Linked DNA regions of Homo sapiens. The protein of the gene in region 2 interacts with the protein of the main gene of each other region in a biochemical or structural test. Each region holds a gene or a part of one and is shown on either strand. Other genes may lie near its edges.

Region 1 (5,155 bases), on a different chromosome or scaffold from region 2:
TGCACTCCAGCCTGTGTAACAGAGCAAGACTTTGTCTCAAAAAAGTAAATAAATAGGGCCGGGCACGTTGGCTCATGCCTGTAATTCCAGCACTTTGGGAGGCTGAGGTGGGAGGATCACGAGGTCAGGAGATCGAGACCATCCTGGCTAACACGGTGAAACCCCATCTCTACTAAAAATACAAAAAATTAGCCAGGCGTGGTGGCGGGCACCTGTAGTCCCAGCTACTTGGGAGACTGAGGCAGGAGAATGGCGTGAAAGCCGGGAGGCGGAACTTGCAGTGAGCTGAGATGACACCACTGCACTCCAGCCTGGGCAAACAGAGCGAGACCCTGTCTCAAAACATAAATAAATAAATAAATAAATAAATGTAATGACTAAAGGAATAAAAGTAGAATGTATAATTTCTAAACCAGAAGAAGATAAGCAGGAAATCAAGAAAAGTCTGTAGATCCAAAGGAGGAAGGGAGAAAACATATACACACACACACACTCTCACACACACAAACACACACATAGAACATTTTCAAAACTTGACCATGTACTCAGTCATAAAGCAGGTCTCAACAAATTCCAAAGAACATATATTCTATAGACCATGTTCACCAACCATGATATAATTAAACTAAACACTTTTTAAAAAAGGATAACTATGCCAGGTGCGGTGGCTCACACCTATAATCCCAGTGCTTTAGGAGGCCAAGATGGGAGGATCACTTGAGCCCAGGAGTTTTGAGAACAGGCTGGGTAACATAATAAAACACTGTCTCTACAAATTTTTCTATTTTTTTATATTTTATTTTATTTTATTTTATTTTATTTTTGAGACGGAGTCTGACTCTATCATCCAGGCTGGAGTGCAGTGGTGTGATCTCGGTTCACTGCAACCTCCATCCCCTGGGTTCAAGTGATTCTCCTGTCTCAGCCTGTAGCTGGAACTACAGGCACCTGCCACCATGCCCAGCTAATTTTGTATTTTTAGTAGAGATGGAGTTGGCCAGGCTGGTCTCGAATTCCTGACCTCAGGTGATCCTCCTCCTTGGTCTCCCAAAGTGCTGGGATTACAGGCACAAGCCACCATACCTGGCCAAAAAAATTTTTTTAATTAGCTTGGCATAATGGGGCACACCTGTAACCCCAGGGGCTTGAGAGGCTGAGGCAGGAGGATAGCTTGAGGTCAGGAGTTCGAGGCTTCAGTGAACTATGATTGTGCCACTGCGCTCCAGCCTGGGCACTCTGTCTCTAAAAGAAAAAAAAAATGAAAAGGCTAACTAAACCCATGTCAGACTAGGTGGGAGGAAGGGCGGGTAAAGGGAGAGACACATAGTGACTGGTGGGAACCTCATGGGCTGAGAGCCAGAATCCTCCCTTTTCCCATCGCCCAGGATGAGAGGACTGAGGCATCAGCTGCAACCTGGACTCAAGGCCCCCTGAAGTCCTTCTGTCCCCAAAGACCTGTGACCTCTGGGATTCCACTCTTCGGAGTTGCAGTTAACTGGGGTATCAGCTGAATCAACGAGGAGGATTCTAGAGTGAACTTCCACACCATACCCCAGGCCCCTAAGCCCACTCCTCCTTGTTTAGCCATCTGTCCTCAGGATGGATGTCCCTTGCTTCCACAGGGAGGCCACGTATCAGGGAAATTGCAGGTCTGCAGGGGCAGATGTTGGCAGCTCTTGCCCTTGCCTGTTCCCCCACCTTAGCAGAGCCAACCCTCACTACTCCCCAGCCTTCCCCGACTCTGCTCTGTTCAACCCTGCAGGGGCCAAGTTCCCCATCAAGTGGACAGCTCCTGAAGCCATCAACTTTGGCTCCTTCACCATCAAGTCAGACGTCTGGTCCTTTGGTATCCTGCTGATGGAGATCGTCACCTACGGCCGGATCCCTTACCCAGGTAGGGAAGGGGCATCAGCTCAGGGCTGCTACCAGGGCCCAGTCTGGCAATGGGCTCATCTCAACAACATGTCCATTCAAACTGAGTTCTTGATCCTCACCCCCAACCTTCCCTCACCTTTCCTGTCTTAGTTAAAGGCACCTCCATCCATCTAATGTCTTAAGCCTGAAATCTGGGGGCTTCCTTGGCCCTTCCTTCTCTCTCACTCCTATGACTTTTTTTTTTTTTTTTTTTTTTTTTGAGACGGAGTCTCCCTCTGTCACCCAGGCTGGAGTGCAGTGACGTGATCTCGGCTCACTGCAACCTCCGCCTCCCAGGTTCAAGCGATTCTCCTGCCTCAGCCTCCTGAGTAACTGGGATTACAAGCATCCACCACCATGCCTGGCTAATTTTTGTATTTTTAGTAGAGACGGGGTTTCACCATGTTGGCCAGGCTGGTCTCGAACTGCTGACCTTAGGTGATGCGCCTGCCTCGGCCTCCCAAAGTGCTGGGATTACAGGCGTGAGCCACTGTGCCTGGCCTCACCCCTATGACATCTGAGCAGTCACAGGGTTTTGGCCACTCGACTCCAAAACATATCCCAAGTCTCACCACTTTGAACCCCACAGTCTCCACTGCATCCAGGCCAGCGTCATCTCCCATAGATGGTGCAGCGGCATCCTCATCAGTCTTACTGCTTTCTCCCTCCTCGTCCTACAGCCTATTCTCCACTTGCAGCCAGAAGGATAATTCTAAACTTTAAATCAGATCTTGTCCTTTCTCCACCTTTTTTTTTTTTTTTAAGACAAGGTCTCACTCTGTCACTGAGGCTGTAGTGCAGTGGTGTAATCATAGCTCATGGCAGCCTCGACTTCCTAGGCTCAAATGATCCTCCCGCTTCAGCCTCCCGAGTATCTGGGACCATAGGCACATGCCACCATGTCTGGCTATTTTTTATTTTTTTAATTTTTTTGTAGAGACTTGGTCTCACTACGTTGTGCAGCCTGGTCTCTAACTTCCAGGCTCAAACGATCCTCCAGCCTTGGCCTCCCAAAATGCTGGGATTACAGACACACACCACCATGCCCAGCTAATTCTTTAAATTTTTTGAGAGACAAGGTATTGCTATGTTGCCGGGCTGGTGATTTCCATTTTTAAGCGATGCTTTCAGCATGGAGAGTGAATGGGAGGGAAAGGGAACAGGGTGGCAGCCAGTGAGGAGGCCACAGCAGTGGCCCAGGCAGAGGTGATGATGGTCTGGACAGGGTGGTGGCATTCGTGACTGGCATACGTTGATGAACTGGTGCTACGTTTCAAAAGGAGAAAAGATCTGACTTGCTGACTTAGGAGGTGAGAGAGAGAGAATAAAGGATGATTACCCTGGCTTTGCACCACAGGGTGGGTAATGGTCTAGGGATAGAAATTGGAGAGCTCTGTTTTAGCTCTGCTAAATTTGAGTTGACTTAAATATAGAGACATCCAAGTAAAGGAAGCACTTGAGTTCATGAGTTTGGAGTTTGAGACTAATAATATAAAATTGGGGATCACAGACATTGAATGGCTATTCTTATGAATAGCTAATAGAAACTTGAACTGAACAAAAAAATGGTCCCACCCATAGGTTAACATTGAATCTGGCCACCTGAATGTTTTGTCTTGAGGGTGCACTAGTCAAAACCAGGCAACACACAATAGACGCTGAATCCATTAGGATGTGTTCCACAGCAAGCAACAAAATAACAGACAAAGAGTAACTGAAATAGAAGCAATCTATTACTCCCAATCTTCCATTGGTGACTGGTTAGTTCAGCAACTCAGCAGCTGTCAGGACTCTGGGTTCCTGTCTCTATGATGGTCTTCTCCATGTTGTCAGCTCCAAGTATCATAAGTATCTCACAGTGTTCAAAGGAAGAGATGAAGGGTGCGTTCTCCAAAGACTCTCCTCTAAGCGGGAGGAAAAACCTTTCCATCACTTTCCCAGCAGACCTCCCCATCAGCTCCCATTGGCCCAAACTGGGTCCCAGGCCCATGTCCTAGCTGCAAGTGAAGCTGAGGGTGGAAGTCTGTCTTTCACAGTGGAAGGGGCTCAGCTTGCAAGGTGAGGTGGGGAGTGATGCCTGCTGGGGAGGCCACAGGGCCTGCCACCCCTGGGCTCTCATTTCCCAACTGCTTCCGTTTCTAATTCCACGGCTCCTTTTCAGGGATGTCAAACCCTGAAGTGATCCGAGCTCTGGAGCGTGGATACCGGATGCCTCGCCCAGAGAACTGCCCAGAGGAGCTCTACAACATCATGATGCGCTGCTGGAAAAACCGTCCGGAGGAGCGGCCGACCTTCGAATACATCCAGAGTGTGCTGGATGACTTCTACACGGCCACAGAGAGCCAGTACCAACAGCAGCCATGATAGGGAGGACCAGGGCAGGGCCAGGGGGTGCCCAGGTGGTGGCTGCAAGGTGGCTCCAGCACCATCCGCCAGGGCCCACACCCCCTTCCTACTCCCAGACACCCACCCTCGCTTCAGCCACAGTTTCCTCATCTGTCCAGTGGGTAGGTTGGACTGGAAAATCTCTTTTTGACTCTTGCAATCCACAATCTGACATTCTCAGGAAGCCCCCAAGTTGATATTTCTATTTCCTGGAATGGTTGGATTTTAGTTACAGCTGTGATTTGGAAGGGAAACTTTCAAAATAGTGAAATGAATATTTAAATAAAAGATATAAATGCCAAAGTCTTTACCAAAACGTTGGTTTTCCTGTCCTTCCAATTCCTGAATATCTATTTGCCTTCTTGCTGTATGACAAGTCAGAAATGGTGAAGGACTCTCCCGGGGACCAGAAATACAAAGACAAGTGGGGTTCAGACTGGGTGCTGTGGCTCCCACCTATAATACCAGTGCTTTGGGAGACCGAGGAGCGGGGGATTGCTTGAGCCCAGGAGGTCGAGGCCACAGTGAGCTATGATCGTGCCACTGCACTCTAGCCTGAGCGACACAGTGAGACCCTGTTTAAAAAAAAAAAAAAAAGATGAAGAAGAAGAAAGAAAGGAAAGGAAAGAAAATTGGGGTTCAATGCTTGAGGTTTTCTAACTGCCCTAAAATAGTTACTGGCTATATTAGTTTCCTCTTGCTCCTGTAACAAATTACCACATATCTGGTAGCTTAAGACAACAAAACTGCATAACATTACTTGGCCGGGCATAATGGCTCATGCCTATAGTTCCAGCATTTTGGGAGACTGAGGTGGGTGATCACTTGAGATCAGGAGTTCGAGACCAGCCTGGCC
Region 2 (7,040 bases):
TTTTTTTTTAGGAAAGCATTTAGTTACATTTAGTTTATCCAGCGTGTTATCAAAGGGTGCTATATAGTCTCTTCTGTTCTGAGGTCACTGCCTTAAAAATGTTGATGTATGTTAAGTGCTGGGCCAGGCACAGTGGCTCATGCCTGTAATGCCAGCACTTTGGGAGGCCGATGCAGGCAGATTGCTTGAGCCCAGGAGTTCAAGACCAGCCTGAGCAACATAGCGAAACCCCATCTCTACAAAAAATACAAAAATTAGCCTGGTGTTGTGGTGTGCACCTGTACCCAGCTACTCTGGAGGCTGGGGCAGGAGGATCACTTGAGTCCAGAAAGTTGAGGCTGTGATGAGCCATGATTGTGTCACTACACTTTGGCCTGGGCAACAGAGTGAGAGCCTGTCTCAAAATAAAGTAAAAAATAAAATAGTAAAGGTCTTAATGTATTATGGAAGAGCACCAGAATACATCAGAAAAGCCAAATTCAGGTCTAGGAACTGCCACTTTCTAGTTTCATAACCTTAAGCTAATCACTTTATTAATATGGCTTCAGTGTCCTTCAGTAAAATGGGAATGGTAATACTCTACCTTTGCAGGGTTGTTTAAAATCAAGTGAGGTAATTTATGTGGAAATGTTTTTATATAGTAGCATGTATATTTAGAAATCCTCTATTTTCTGTCAGTTCAATTTTGTGGGGAAGATTCTTGGACCACAAGGGAATACAATCAAAAGACTGCAGGAAGAGACTGGTGCAAAGATCTCTGTATTGGGAAAGGGCTCAATGAGAGACAAAGCCAAGGTAAGCTCACATTAGTGAGGCAAGAGGACATCCTAATGCCTTCTACTTGCCCAGAATGCAGTATGGATGTCTTATAGAGGCGGCAAGAATTTTGTATGTGTACAGAATGTGGCTCCTTTAAGTTTGCACTGGATGCAAGAGATTATACACCAAGTTAATTTACTTGGCTTGGCAACCCTGGAAGAGCCTAGGTGTGCCCTGGTGATAGTTTTCTTTTGGACTTTTTGACTGTGTAGTAATGGAAACAGCAGTAGCATGTTGCGCATTGGTAGGATTGTCTGTGAAAACTTGAAAGGGGAACTGAATATACTAAAATTTAGTCTAAAGCAGACAAAAGACGCTAAAATGCAAATAGCACACCCCCTTTTTTGTAACCTGGAAAAGTGAGAACAATAATGTGAGAGCAGATGAGTTTGAGGATTAGTTGGTTTGTTTTATAGCCGGTTTGGAATGTGAGGCTCACTAAAAGAATGTATTCCAAAAGGAACCATGAGTAATCCTGACTACAGAATCTAATGCGTCTTTTTTTTCCCCATGCCATAGCCGCGTACGCTGTGTACTCTGTGACAAGAAACTTCTCACCAAAACAGAATAGTCTTAGCCTTCTGGGGTCACCTTATTTGATGAGATATTCCTGCTACAGTCCAAAAACCAATTCTTTCAACCCTCCTTTTATGTAGTCTAATGGACACATGTTTGTTTTCTCAGGTCATTTCTTGCTAGATGCATATAGTTACGGCTGAAGTGTGTTCTAACTAATGAGATTTACATGAGCTTTTCTTCCCTCTGTCCTGACTTCTTTCTTCCCCTACCACTCCCTAGACCATATAAGCAGATAAGCAGAGCTCGTGGTGATTAACAGCTCTACCTGTGATTTAAAAACAAATGCTTGGCAAACAGCTATTATCTGAATAGACTAGAATTAAGTTTTTCTTCTTTATGCTTTTAGTAGGAGCTCCAATGGATATCTCAGGGATTTAAGACAACAATTAACTGTAAGCAGCAGACCATGTGCAAGTTTAGCAGGCTGTGCAAATTACTGTTCTTGAGAGTTTGTTTTACTTTTTTTTTTTTTCTTGAGAGGGAGCCTTGCTCTATTGCCCAGGCTGGAGTGCAGTGGCTCACTGCAACCTCCACCTCACGGGTTCAAGCAATTCTCCTGCCTCAGCCTCCTGAGTAGCTGGGATTACAGGCGTGCGCCACCATGCCCGGCTAATTTTTGTATTTTTAGTAGAGACGGGGCTTCATCACATTGGTCAGACTGGTCTCGAACTCCTGACCTTGTGATCCTCCCGCGTCAGTCTCCCAAAGTCCTGGGATTATAGGCGTGAGCCACCGCGCCTGGCTGCTTGTTTTACTTTCTTAAACTTTACTGTTTTTCTTTTTTCTTTTTTCTTTTTTTGTTTAATTCTTCTCAGCTCATACCAATTAACTTTACTGTTTTTCATGGACATTAGGGGTATTTCTTGCTGTTCCTTTGGCTTAGAGGTAAAGGTGGTGTTTTCTCCCTAGTCCATGGTGTGACATTTCTCTGCATTTTTCCATAGGAGGAAGAGCTGCGCAAAGGTGGAGACCCCAAATATGCCCACTTGAATATGGATCTGCATGTCTTCATTGAAGTCTTTGGACCCCCATGTGAGGCTTATGCTCTTATGGCCCATGCCATGGAGGAAGTCAAGAAATTTCTAGTACCGGTAAGGAAATCCATATCCTGTGTCTTCTGAGCAAAAGAGAACTGGGATCTTATACTGTTGTGAAGGTAGGGGTTCTTAACTAAGGTCTCTGCATAACCTGTATGTATACCAAATTCTGCACTTATGTTCATTTTCCTTAGGTAGTTCGTTACTTGCACCTAGTTCTCAAAGCATTATGCTCCAAGGCCACTCTATCCCTCCTTGTCTAATGTGGTTTTCATTGTGTACCGGTATCTTGTCAGTATCTCGGGTCCACAGTGTGCCTGCATTCTGATATTTGGTTAACTAAGGTTTAACAGGGTCTTCACCTAGCTGAGTATTTTGGTAGTAGTGTGGAACAAGGAGATTGTGTTAGGAAAGTGACTAAGGTGGGTCTCTGCACTCAAGAAGTTCATGCTGTAGAGAGTAGAGACTAGCAGCAAGAAGCTTATAGCATCTAGTGTTATTGGGTTAAATTCTGACCTGAGCACACTCAGGGATTTCTTTCCTGGAGGAGTTTGCTGAGGACGAGTTTAGTTTGGAAGAGGTTGACTATTGATGTTTAACAGATAGGTGAGCAGCTTTTTTCAGACTATTACTGAGGACTAGATAGAGATGGGACAGGCCAGTTTATCTATCTTGCTTGTTACCACCTTTGAATACTTGGTTGGAATATTACTTTGAATAAATAGGAAATGGTACTATTTTTGCCTTTTAGCAAGGCCTGGTGGTTGTCAGAGTTAACATACTACTGTTGAATATTTAATAACAAGGATGAATCTGGAGACTTATGAAGGATTTGGAATATTATTAAGTAGAATTGAGTAAGCGTCATGTGTTCATCAGAAAACTAGGAGGAGGTAAGATACAGTCCTTGGTTTTCTTGAATGTTAAATGAGGGAATTAGAACTAAATGTGGTGTCAGATGATGTGAAAATTGATAGGGCAAAAATTTATAGGCAGTGTGGGCCAGGCACGGTGGCTCACGCCTGTAATCCCAGCAATTTGGGAGGCCGAGGAGGGCAGATCACCTGAGGTCGGGAGTTCGAGACCAGCCTGACCAACATGGAGAAACCCTGTCTATTAAAAATACAAAATTAGCCGGGCGTGGTGGCACATGCCTGTAATCCCAGCTACTAGGGAGGCTGAGGCGGGAGAATCACTTGAACCCAGGAGGCAGAGGTTGCGGTAAGCTGAGATTGCACCATTGGACTCCAGCCTGGGCAACAAGAGTGAAACTCCATCTCCAAAAAAAATAAATAAATAAGTTTTTAGGCATTGTGTACCCATAATGCTGAACTCCAAGGATTCCAACAGTCTCAAATGTCTTAGCAGCTGCTTTGCTTTCAAGTACCTCATCTTCATTAGAATGTTCAACATGAGGCAGGGCGCGGTGGCTCACACCTGTAATCCCAGCATTTTGGAAGGCCGAGGCGGGTGGATCACGAGGTCAGGAGATCAAGGCCATCCTGGCTAACATGGTGAAACCCCGTCTCTACTAAAAATTCAAAAAAAAAATTAGCTGGGCGTGGTGGCAGGCGCCTGTAGTCCCAGCTAATCGGGAGGCTGGGGCAGGAGAATGGTATGAACCCGGGAGGCGGAGCTTGCAGTGAGCCGAGATTGCGCCACTGCACTCTGGCCTGGGTGACAGAGTGAGGCTCTGTCTCAAAAAAAAAAAAAAAAGAATGTTCAACATGAAACAGACCATTTAACATATCCTAGAGAAAAACACAGCTGGTTAATAATCTTAAGGAAATTCTTTTTACTCTTTTTGGGGTGTTCTATTGATCACCCAAGCCATTCAATTTCCAAAGGACTGCAGAGGGAATGCCCATCTCCTCTCTTCATTGTTAGTCTCCCTCATATTCCTCAGAAGGGTTAGGTTTATGAGGCTTGCTTGTAAGTGAATCTTTTGAAAAAGATGCTTGCCGGGGAGATGTGGGTTTCCTCAGTGTTGATGTGGCAGTTGGAGGAGTCTGAGCAATGGTCTGGCATTGGTTACTTGATTCTCCAAGGTGTGAGTCTCAAGCAGCGGTAATGTGTAAGGTAGGAGGAGCTAGAGAGTTGAGGGGGGCATCAAAGACTAGCATCATCTATTGAAGCTGTATACGCCTGGGATATATAAAAATGCATGAAGTATTAAGACTGAATGGCTCTCAATAGGAAGTGTGAAAAGATTTGCCAGTGGCATTTGATTTTTCCCTCTTGTGGAGGAAAGAAAAGTGAGGCTATTTTTGCATCTGTGACCAGAGCCCTCCATTTTCCACTTAGAACAATTAACTATACCAGCAATGCTTCACAGTGCCGTAGGAAGAGCACTGGACTATGTATGTCTGTCTATCTGTGTCTTCCTGAACAGGTTATCATTTCACTTTTCTGAGCTTCAGGTTTCTTGTTCGTCCCAAACATTTCTTAAGTATCTGTCAGATGTCTGATACTATGCTTGGGTGTAAAGTTACAAAAATGGCTCCTAAAGAGCTTACAGTTTAGTGACAGACAATTCTAAAATTATGTGGTAAGTGCTTGGGTATAGGGAATTATGTGGTACTTTGAGAAAAGAGGAGTTGTAGGGGTGGCATCAAGAGAAAGTTTTTCAAGAGACACTTATTTAGGCAAGTCTTGTAAGGATGAATTAAGAATCCCTCAGGTGGACAAAAAAGACAGTATAAGGACAAAAAAGCCTGTTGATCCAACACCTAGATTTTGAGACAGGTAATTCTGAATTCACATCTAGAGTCTGCCATTTATTAGCTCTGTGTTCTTAAGCTGGTTGATGTATACTCCTTGAGTCTGTTTTCTTAACTGTAAAATGTGGAGATCTGCCTACTTATTTCAGGGTCATTTTGAAGATTTTTTTTTTTTTTTTTTTTTTTTTTGAGATGGAGTCTCTCTCTTTCGCCCAGGCCGGACTGCAGTGGCGCTATCTTGGCTCACTGCAAGCTCCGCCTCCCGGGTTCTCGCCATTCTCCTGCCTCAGCCTTCCGAGTAGCTGGGACTACAGGTGCCTGCCGCGCCCGGCTAATTTTTTTGTATTTTTAGTAGAGATAGCGTTTCACCGTGTTAGCCAGGGTGGTCTCGATCTCCTGACCTCGTGATCTGCCCGCCTCGGCCTCCCAAAGTGCTGGGATTACAGGCGTGAGCCACTGCACCCGGCCCTCATTTTGAAGATTAAACTGAAAAATCTATATAAAGCTTATTATATAGAGCCAAGTGCATACAGCTCCATTAATGGTAGTGGCTTTTATTATTCCAGGAAAAGGAAACTATTTGCAAAGAATGGATATGTAAGAGTATGCCAGGCTCTGAACTACAAGTTGTTCAGTCTGGCTTGTGAGTAGGTTATATATAGAGAGAGAATGGAAGTGATCCGGAGAGCTAGGCAGAGACCACATTATGAATAATGAGGGGTCTACCATCAAGACTTTTCTCAAAGAGGTGACAGATAGGGTGCCATTTGACTTCAGAGAAGGAATGACCTGAGACCTCATCTGGGCTCTCAAGAGCTCTTCTTAGAATTCAAGTCTCCCGTGGACCAGATGATTTCTCAGTAGAAAGTGTAGATACCACACAATACTCCTTGTATCTTTCGTTCCCAGGATATGATGGATGATATCTGTCAGGAGCAATTTCTAGAGCTGTCCTACTTGAATGGAGTACCTGAACCCTCTCGTGGACGTGGGGTGCCAGTGAGAGGCCGGGGAGCTGCACCTCCTCCACCACCTGTTCCCAGGTAAAAATAATGGAGACACCCAGAAATAGGATGTGAATTTGACTACTAGTGTCATCTCTTTTAGTGGTGCTCTTATGTCTAGCTTAGGAAGGGTCTCAGGATTTGTATGTTGCATAAAGAACAGAATTCTACAACCATACTCTCACACCTGTAATCCCAGCACTTTAGGAGGCTAAGGCAGGCGGATCAACTGACATTTGGAGTTTGAGACCAGCCTGGCCAACATGGTGAAACCCTGTCTCTACTAAAAATACAAAAATTATCCAGGTGTGGTGGCATACACCACACTACTCAGGAGGCTGGGGCAAGAGAATTGCTTGAACCCAGGAGACGGAAGTTGCAGTGAGCCGAGATCATGCCACTGCACTTCAGCCTGGGAGATAGAGCAAGACTCCATTTCAAAAAAAAAAAAAAATAGAGTTCTAGATCTTGGGCACTTTGACCATAGCCAAGTGCTGCAGTCTAGCTGAAACTTTTGGTCTTCTAATTTTGGACAGTCTTAGCATTTGTTAATGGTCTGACTTTAAAATTCTACCTTTTGTGACTGACCTTTATAGAGTATTCAGACTCTCCAGACCTACCCAAGGCAGTGCAGTGATGAATTGGTCCTCTATAGGACCTGGGGGATCTTGCAGTGTGGGTCCTTTACCCTGTACATTCCTCTGTGCTTTAATAATAGCCTAGTTAAGGCTTCATAAAATCTGCCTAATTCCAGAATTTGTAAACAAATCAGAACATAAAAGTGGCCTGTTTATAAAAAGCTCCATTTAAGATAAACTTTCATTTTGTAGGGGCCGTGGTGTTGGACCACCTCGGGGGGCTTTGGTACGTGGTACACCAGT

Evidence for each region.
Region 1: the proteins of KHDRBS1 (region 2) and HCK interact in a biophysical measurement, tested with the Homo sapiens proteins (2 studies listed by BioGRID and IntAct, with this or other methods).

The regions. Positions count from the first base shown.
Region 1 is NC_000020.11:32,097,242-32,102,396, forward strand, and holds the end of HCK (tyrosine-protein kinase HCK), read left to right. Parts: intron 1-1,762; coding exon 1,763-1,894; intron 1,895-4,075; coding exon 4,076-4,278; 3' UTR 4,279-4,615; downstream 4,616-5,155. UniProt on the Homo sapiens protein: Non-receptor tyrosine-protein kinase found in hematopoietic cells that transmits signals from cell surface receptors and plays an important role in the regulation of innate immune responses, including neutrophil, monocyte, macrophage and mast cell functions, phagocytosis, cell survival and proliferation, cell adhesion and migration.
Region 2 is NC_000001.11:32,030,846-32,037,885, forward strand, and holds part of KHDRBS1 (KH domain-containing, RNA-binding, signal transduction-associated protein 1), read left to right. Parts: intron 1-678; coding exon 679-795; intron 796-2,342; coding exon 2,343-2,489; intron 2,490-6,064; coding exon 6,065-6,198; intron 6,199-6,989; coding exon 6,990-7,040. UniProt on the Homo sapiens protein: Recruited and tyrosine phosphorylated by several receptor systems, for example the T-cell, leptin and insulin receptors. Once phosphorylated, functions as an adapter protein in signal transduction cascades by binding to SH2 and SH3 domain-containing proteins.